Linked DNA regions of Homo sapiens: regions 1 and 2 are each linked to region 3. The links come from fine-mapping of genetic effects on gene expression. A gene starts in region 3. Each other region holds a variant in brackets. All regions are shown on one strand. Distances are from middle to middle.

Region 1 (2,760 bases), 61 kb after region 3:
TCTGAGCACCTTGTGTGTGTGGTTTAAGTGAAGGTAAGGCAGTGTAGATTGTGCGAACAAGAGATCTGTGTTCTGTCATCAGGAAAGGCTACTACATGCATCACACAAAATGCACAACCTGAAATGCTTCAATCTGCAACCGAAGTTTCCTCAAGCAAGAATTCGCATGAACACTGACGAACACATACAGAGCAACTTGGGCAGAGAGAATGGATGATGCCATGAGGCAGTGAGGTTAGCACACTGATCAAGAGCCCCAAAAGCAGGAGCCGTCCCAGTGGCAGAGCAGGCTAGGAGGGTGAGCAGCAGCCATCTCCAGCCACCTTGAGTTCCTTCCTGCCTTCACTCTAAGTTGAGCAGCTCCACGTCAAAGATGAGGGTGGCATTGGGAGGGATGACACCGGGGTGGCCCGTGGCTCCATATGCCACATCAGGGGTGCAGGTCAGCTTCGCCCTCTGCCCCAAGCTCATCTAGCAGGGATGGGGGCAGATGGGGAGAGGAGAAAGAGGACCCAGCTTGATTTAAAAGAAAAAAGTTAGATGACTATGGCATTTTCCCAAACCATCCTCAATGTTAACTCTGAAGATCTCAGATGAATTTTACATGGGATACATTGAAATCGTGCTAACAGCTTTAACAAACGCAGATTCTGCCTCAGCAGAGATGTGACTGTGGGGCAGTAACCCTCACAGAGTGGTCTCAAATTCATGCATCTGACAAACATTACTGGTTATTCAATTTGTGTATGACTGAAACACTTCCATTTGTTCATAGTTCACCCTCTTCCAAAGAATAGGCCTCTTTAGGAAAAGAGGGTGTATGAATAGCACACGTAAATACTCAAGTAGGTGACAGGGGCAGTTATTTAAAGTGGTTTAGAGACTAGAGTCACCAGCAAGGTGGCAAGGGGGACCTATTGTGGCCAACCGTGGTGGCTCACACCTGTAATCCCAGCACTTTTGGGAAGCCAAGGTGGGCAGATCACTTGAGTCCAGAAGTTCAAGACCAGCCTGGCTAATATGGCAAAACCCTGTCTCTACTAAAAAATACAAAAAGTCCGGGCGTGGTGGCTCACACCTGTAATCTCAGCACTTTGGGAGGCCGAGGCAGGTGGATCACCTGAGGTCAGGAGTTCGAGAGCAGCCTGGCAAACATGGTGAGACCCCGTCTGTACTAAAAATACAAAAATTAGCCAGGCGTGATGGTGATGGTGCACACCTGTAATCTCAGCTACTCGGGAGGCTGGGGCAGGAAAATTGCTTGAACCTGGGAGGAGGAGGTTGCAGTGAGCTGAGATTGTGCCACTGCACTCTAGCCTGGGCAACAGAGTGAGACTACGTCTCAAAATAAATAAATAAATAAAAAACAAAAAACAGGCCGGGCACGGTGGCTCGCACCACTTTGGGAGGCTGAGGCGGGCAGATCACGAGGTCAGGAGACCGAGACCATCTTGGCTAACAACGGTGAAACCCCGTCTCTACTAAAAATACAAAAAAATTAG[CCGGCCGTGGTG/G]GCGGGCGCCTGTAGTCCCAGCTACTAGGGAGGCTGAGGCAGAAGAATGGCGTGAACCCAGGACGCGGAGCTTGCAGTGAGCCAAGATTGCGCCACTGCAGTCCAGCCTTGGTGACAGAGTGATACTCTTTCTAAAAAAAAACACCAAAAACAAGACCTATCGTAAGGGAGCATCATAGGACTTCACAGACAGACCAAGAAAGAACAGCTTGAACCAGGGCTCATCACAGCAGTTGTTGAGAACCCACTCAGCATTAGTGGGACAATTGGTGAAATTTAAATCTACTTTTGAATTTTGAATAATCAAAAATTTGAATAAGTAAGTAATTTGTATCAGTGTGAATGTCCTGGTTTTGATAATTGTACTATGGTTATGCAAGAAGGGGAAGCTGGATAGAATATAGAAGAACTCTGTACTATTTCTTTAATATTTTTGTAATTCTGAAATTCTTTTCAAAAAAGCGAAAAAACGAAAAATTTTCTTGGCCTACTCCACCCCAACTCTTCCACTACCTCAGTCCCAGGCAACTGGTAGACCTCAGCTAGTTTATTTTTTTGTTTTGTTTTTTTGAGACAGTCTCACTCCATCGCCTGGGCTGGAGTACAGTGGCACAATCTCTGCTCACTGCAACCTTCACCTCCCCGGTTCAAGTAATTCTCCTGTCGCAGCCTCCCAAGTAGCTGGGATTACAGGCATGCACCACCACGCCTGTATTTTCAGCAGGGACGGGGTTACACCATGTTGGTGAGGCTAGTCTTGAACTCCTGGCCTCAACTGATCCACCCCATTCGGCCTCCCAAAGTGCTGGGATTACAGGTGTGAGCCACCGTGCCTGGCTCTCTCAGCTAGTTCTGAGCAAGCCTAGGGGGATGTGCTTGGGATGAGAGCCCCCAGGGACACAAAAGAGGTATGCTGGCAAGGAGAGGGGTGGGGACGCAAAGCCAGGAGGGGACACCAGATGGCGTTGCCATGCCCTGGCTGTAGAGTCAAAGCAGTAGTGGTCTGTGAGTGGGTGAAGGTGGAGGTGGAGGGCAGAGTGCTGATCCCAGATCCCCAACTCCCCAGATCCCCTTTAATGCGAATCCTCATCCTACCTGGGCTGCACCCTCTTCAAAACCTTTGATGACTTCCTGTTTGCCAATTCTGAACTTGAAAGGTTTGTTTCTGTCTCTGGATGAATCAAACTTCTTCCCATTTTGGAGCATTCCTGTCAAAGCAAGAATCGGGTGCAATAGAGCTGTGGTCA
Region 2 (2,760 bases), 670 kb after region 3:
TTGCATTAATTTGCTAGGGCTGCCATAACAAAATACCAAAGGCTGGGTGGTTTAAACAATGGGAATTTATTTTCTCACAGTTCTGGAGGCCAGAAGTCCAAGATCAAAGTGTCAGCAGGTTTGGTTTCTTCTGGGGCCTCTTCTCCTTGGCTTGCAGGTGGCCGCTTTCTCACGAAGTCCTCACACAGTCTTTCCTCTTTGCATGCACATTCCTGTGTCCCTCTGTGTGTCTTCTTTTTATAAACACACCAATCAGGTTTCACCTTAATCACCCCTTTAAAGGCCCTATGTCCAAATACAGCCACATTCTGAGGGATTGGGAATTAGGGCTTCAGCATGTGAATTTTGGGGAGACACAATTCAGTGCCTAACTGTGGCTGACTAACAAATGAACCACATGGCAGAATTTACAAAATCAGGAGACTCTACTCGGGAGGCTGAGGCAGGAGAATCTTTTGAACCTGGGAGGCAGAGGTTGCAGTGAGCCGAGATGGTGCCACTGCACTCCAGCCTTGGTGACAGATGGAGACTCGGTCTCAAAAAAAAAAAAAAAAAAAAAAAATCAGGAGACCATCCCTCAGCTGACGCTTCTCTTCATCACTCAATGGCAAACTTGTCTGCCTGTCCTCAGGGAAACTTCTTAGAGCAGAAAGGCAAATAAAATTCACAAACCAAAATATCTTACATTAACTGGATTTCCACTTATTTATTTGCTTTTTAACAAAGACCTTCACTAACAACAGACCAAACCAATGTTGATAACAACAGTAATGATAAACCAACCAAATCTAGCAAAACTATTTCAACTTAAAATAGGTTAAAGTTGAAGAACATATTTTAGGCACGAGGTGTAACTCTGAATCATAATACACGGTATTTATAAAATATATTTTCAGGTAACCTTTTTACAGAGCTTTACTAATCAGTCACAAGAGGTCAAGGATTATGGAAGTGGGACAATTTTATGGGTGGGCCAAGATTTTGTTATTGATAATGTCAGCAACTAAAGACAACAGCTCTACCAGAAGGAGCCAGGCCTGAGAAGAGGCCACATTCAAGAGACATCAAAGGGTGATCTTATTTAATTCACAATAAATTTGTCTTCAGAGATGACAAACTGATTGCACAGAGGCTGCAGATGCGAGAGAAATAAATGCCCCCCCCCCAACCCACTGTTCCTGTTTCTACGAGTTGTCAAATTCAGCTGACAGCCCTTAGCCCTCTTTAATGGAAAGGCGCCACGGAATTCCATGCCAAGTGCCAAGGGGTAGACAACCTGGCTGTTTAATCTGCATTCTACACTTGGCACCTGGCATAGTGTCTGGTGGGCAGGAGGCACCGAGGAATATTTGTTGTACAAAATT[T/A]AAAAAAAAATCATTGAGGAAGAGATCTGGGCAAGGCGGGGAGAGATTGCAGAAAAAAACGCAAGAACAGAGGAATAGCAAAAAACAGGAACTACAAGCAGAGTGCTTAGCAGTCACGAGAGACTGTGCAAATGAAATAACGAAATCATTATTCAGTCCTCTGATATGATTATACAAGGAGACAGAAAAAGCTGACGAAATAACTGCTTTAAAATGTATAATCTTCATCTTGTAAAAATAAAACCGGGATTTTGTAAAGAATGTATATCAAAGTTATACAAAAACATCAAGACTATACAATTTATAGACAGATTTAAATGGAGTCTGCCTGGGGGTTTAAATAAAATCCATCCTACTAAGCATAAAAATAAAATTCGTTTTAAAACAATTACTCTGTGAAATAAAGAATAAACATACTCGTTTAATCTTTAACTAAGCTCATCCTACAATATAATCCACTAAGTCCCCTCACTATGGGACTGGAATGGGACACAGGACGTGACAGGAGGGGAGGGGAGGTGACAGGCTGAGTTCTGAGGCAAGGCTGTGTCCAGATCTCAAGGGGCCGGGGCGGGAGGGTCAGGGGCCCAGCTTTCTCCTCGGGCAAGGAGAGCCAATTGAGGTCTTAAAGGAAGAACTGACTCAATCGAATGTGTATTTCAAAAGATGACCCACAGGTTAAAAGTCCCTAATGAAAAAAGTAGCCATCAGCTGACACAAATACAACACAATTAGGCTAGGCTCTTCAAAGCAGACCTGGCCTCCTCATTTGCTGTTTTAATGGGCATTTAGTCAGCAAGCGGACCTTGGGTCCCGGGTGTAAGGCTCACTGCCCTGGTTTCAAACGCTGTAAAATCCCCTGGACACAGAAAGTCTCCTCAAATGCAGTTCTAAAACCTCCTCCCCATTTTTAAAGGGTAAATGCAGGTTAAATAAAAAGTGCTAGAGTTTGCCCATTGTAAGTTACCAGTGAGCCCGAATTTTCTTCTAAAAAAAAAATACAAAACAAAATACCAAGTCCCTCTTATTTTATGATCTTGCTTTTTCTAAATATTCATATAAGGTGACCTTTTCAAAGCACGGCTTGGAACTGAAAACATGCTGATAATAAATCGTGTTTCTCTGGCTTAATTGAAGCCCTGCCTTAGCCCGGAGTCAGGGCCGCTGCCGTCCATTTCTCAGGGTGCCCAGAGAAGCAGAGCTCAGTGGGCATCCTGGGGCTGCCAGAACCCAGCAGGGGCTCCGGCTCCAGGGGAAAGGTCCCCCCACTGCACTCCCAGCAAGGTTGTTCCTTCAAGGTGAGCTCTTTCCCCAGAATTCCCATGTGGCAGGAAGGAAAATGCTGCACCCACACTTCTATTTTCAATCGCATTTCTGAAAAGCCTCAATGTGGGAG
Region 3 (2,760 bases):
AGATGTTAGAAAAAAACAGCAAAGTGAATATACAAAGTTAGTAAAGTGAAGGGAATAATAAACAGAATGAAATAAAAACAAACAATAGAAAAAACAATATATTTAGCACAAGCCACTTCCTACTGCAACGATCCAAGTAAAAAAATCTCCAAATCCCACACTATTTGATATATACCTCCATAAAACAAAGGGGCTTGGGCTCCAACCATTCTTTTGAGCTCTTGAGCTTGGGAAGTGTGCCAGTTACCAGATCATCACTGTCTACATTTTTCATTGTGGTCACAAATAACAATGCCCCTGGAAAAACTAAAAATCATCTTATTTAGTATTGAACATTTCACAGTCATCTGATTTTCTCTTCTGTTTAATACCACCTGTGTCCTTGCACACACGCAAAATGGATTTTGAACACTAACCATCCAGTTTCCCTAACAAGAGGCCTTCACTACAGACTCCAGATGACGGCTTCAGAGCCAGCCTCCTTTATAAGCAGGCGAGATGCTCTTTGAAAGAATCCCCCGTCCCTTGGAATGGATTCCCACGTCCCCCTCCAAGGCAGCCCATTCCAGCCAGTGTGGCAGCTTCAGCCTGGCCTCTCGGAGTCCCATTTGCAACACTTTTCTGACTTTGGTGGCCTCGAGTGGGAAGAACTGCAACTTTCTGGCCACAGAAACACAGGCTGAGCTGCTTAGAGAAGGCAGGGAGGGGCTTTCGGTCATACTGCGCGAGTCTTCGAGCTCTGAGCGGCTCGAAGTCCTCCCCGAGGCACGGGTGCGACGGGGATGTCGTAGGCGTCCGCACCCGCTCTCGCTCATCGCGCCCACTCCCGGCCCTTCCTCCCACCCACTAGGCCGGGCGCCTGCGGCCTCCACGCCAGCCCCGGGCCGGGGGCCTCCCGCGCAGGCGCGTCGTGCGCGGGGACCGCCCGGCCTGGCGGGGAGGTCGCCGGCCGCGACAGGCACCTCTCTGCCCTCCCAAGGCCAGCAGGCCCGCGGCCGTCCTGCTACACACTCGGGCCCGGCCCGACGACCCCGGAGCCGTCCGACTGCGGCTGGAAGGGAGCCCGCCCGCGTCTGCGGAACGCGCGAATGTTGGCGCCCACCGTCTCCCGGACGCAGCGCCGCGCGAGCACTCCGCCCCCTGCGCCGCGGGTTCCACAGCGAGTCCGCGCGGGCGGTGCCGGGGCGGCGGAGGACGGCTTCAGGCCCAAAGGGGATTGGGCGGCGGCTCTAGGTGGCGGGTCTTGGTTTGCGGAAGGGGCTGGAGTCGCTGCTTCTCGGTGACCGGCGCGTGGCCCGGCCAATCCTGCCGCCGCCACCCACCCGCAACCGCGTCCGTTGACGGTCGGGTCCTTGGTCGCCGGGTCCTTGCGGGCACCACAGAGCGGGGTGGCGTCCGCTCCCTCGAGTCCTCGGTGCCAGGGAATTCACCGCTCACCACCCCCTGCCCCGCCTTGGGTCCTGCTCGGGGACCAAACCACTGGAAGGCAGTGGCGGGAAACGGGCGCCTGTGCCGGAGGTCCTGATGAGGGGGGTCCAAGGCTTGGGGACTTGTGCGGGAAATGTGGGTTTAAGTGCCTTCAAGGTGTTTTTAGTCCATTGGGATGTTGATCAGCGTTCATAGCTGGCGCTGATGCAGGTCACCGGGAAGGGAATGTGTGGGTTTATGGCCACGCATAATCTCTTTTAGTCGTGTTTAACTTAGCAGGGTAGCTCTCCATCCTGGCTGGGTTTTGTTTTTTGTTTTTATTTTTTATTTTACAGAGTTTTTCTCAGTGTGTAATGTTTGTTTTTAAATCGCAGATAATCCTGATGTAAACCATTGACATAGCCAGAAAATCACCAGGCTGTGATTTTCCAAACTCAGCTTCATAACCTATTCTGTGTGAGCTGTGATTTTTCTATGATTCTGTTTTCCTCTTTGGGTACTGGTGGGCCCTGAATGATGGACCACCGTTTTCACCCTGTACCTTTTCAAAGTACACTTGCTGATCTTAGAACTGTCTGCAGTGTCTTAAGGACATTTGTATTCACATGCCTTTTAAAAGCTAGCCAGAGTCAATGGCTTCAACTGCACTTTCCCTTTCAGAGTTGAGGGAACATGAGCCATTTGCAGAGCTTATTGTTAGACACCCTCTTGGGAACCAAGCATGTGGACAGTGCAGCCCTCATCAAAATCCAGGAGCGGAGCTTGTGTGTAGCATCACCAGGTTTCAATGTAAGAAAAAACAAGTTTGGACCTAAGACTTGATTTACTTATTATTTCTATTCTTCCAAAAAATGAAGCAGACATGACTTTTTTTTTTTTTTGAGACGGAATTTCACTCTTGTTGCTTAGCCTGGGATGCAATGGCATGATCTCAGCTCACTGCAACCTCCGCCTCTCAAGCGATTCTTGAGCCTTAGCCTCCCGAGTAGCTGGGATTACAGGAGTGCGCTACCAGGCCCGGCTAATTTTTGTATTTTTAGTAGAGATGGTGTTTTACCATGTTGGTCAGGCTAGTCTCAAACTCCTAACCTCAGGTGATCCACCTGCCTCGGCCTCCCAAAGTGCTGGGATTACAGGCATGAGCCACCGTGCCCAGCCCAGACATGACTTTTAAATGAACTTTTTCTGTAAAGAGCTACATAAATATTTTAGGTTTCTAGGCTTAGTCTTTTTACTGTTGATATAAAGGAATACCTGAAGCTGGGTAATTTATAAAGAAAAGAGGTTTATTTGGCTCACAGTTCTACTGCCTGGAAGACTGGTCATCTGTGA

Direction of the effects. Positions count from the first base shown, and alleles are read on the strand shown. Sizes are in standard deviations (SD) of each study's normalised expression. Not every link is listed here.
With allele G in place of CCGGCCGTGGTG in region 1, the expression in cerebellar hemisphere of the gene that starts at base 1,167 in region 3 is lower (moderate effect, 0.67 SD a copy in GTEx).

Evidence for each region. PIP is the estimated chance that this variant, and not a neighbour inherited with it, causes the effect.
Region 1: its variant is the best candidate, but not a certain one, in a credible set for the expression of FAM228B in cerebellar hemisphere (GTEx, PIP 0.59).
Region 2: its variant is the best candidate, but not a certain one, in a credible set for the expression of FAM228B in whole blood (INTERVAL, PIP 0.53).

The regions. Positions count from the first base shown.
Region 1 is chr2:24,060,775-24,063,534 of GRCh38, reverse strand. It overlaps FKBP1B (FKBP prolyl isomerase 1B), which reads right to left. Exons shown (of 4, transcript NM_004116.5): 3 at 2,609-2,721; 4 at 1-471. The coding sequence ends at 343. Among named protein-coding and RNA genes, the nearest start is that of FKBP1B, 12 kb to the right of the region's middle. RefSeq lists an enhancer at 2,458-2,597. The variant CCGGCCGTGGTG/G (reference allele first, on the strand shown) is at 1,503.
Region 2 is chr2:23,453,408-23,456,167 of GRCh38, reverse strand. All of the region lies in intron 1 of KLHL29 (kelch like family member 29), which reads right to left. The region is part of intron 1 of LOC124907741 (a long non-coding RNA gene); the gene reads left to right. Among named protein-coding and RNA genes, the nearest start is that of LINC02923, 67 kb to the right of the region's middle. RefSeq lists enhancers at 2,135-2,634, 2,635-2,760. The variant T/A (reference allele first, on the strand shown) is at 1,365.
Region 3 is chr2:24,121,876-24,124,635 of GRCh38, reverse strand. It overlaps FAM228B (family with sequence similarity 228 member B), which reads right to left and starts at 1,167. Exons shown (of 11, transcript NM_001145710.2): 1 at 1,103-1,167; 2 at 176-306. The coding sequence starts at 274. PFN4 (profilin family member 4) reads left to right here and starts at 1,302. Exons shown (of 5, transcript NM_199346.3): 1 at 1,302-1,518; 2 at 2,089-2,217. The coding sequence starts at 2,101. RefSeq lists an enhancer at 416-665 and a silencer at 736-1,235.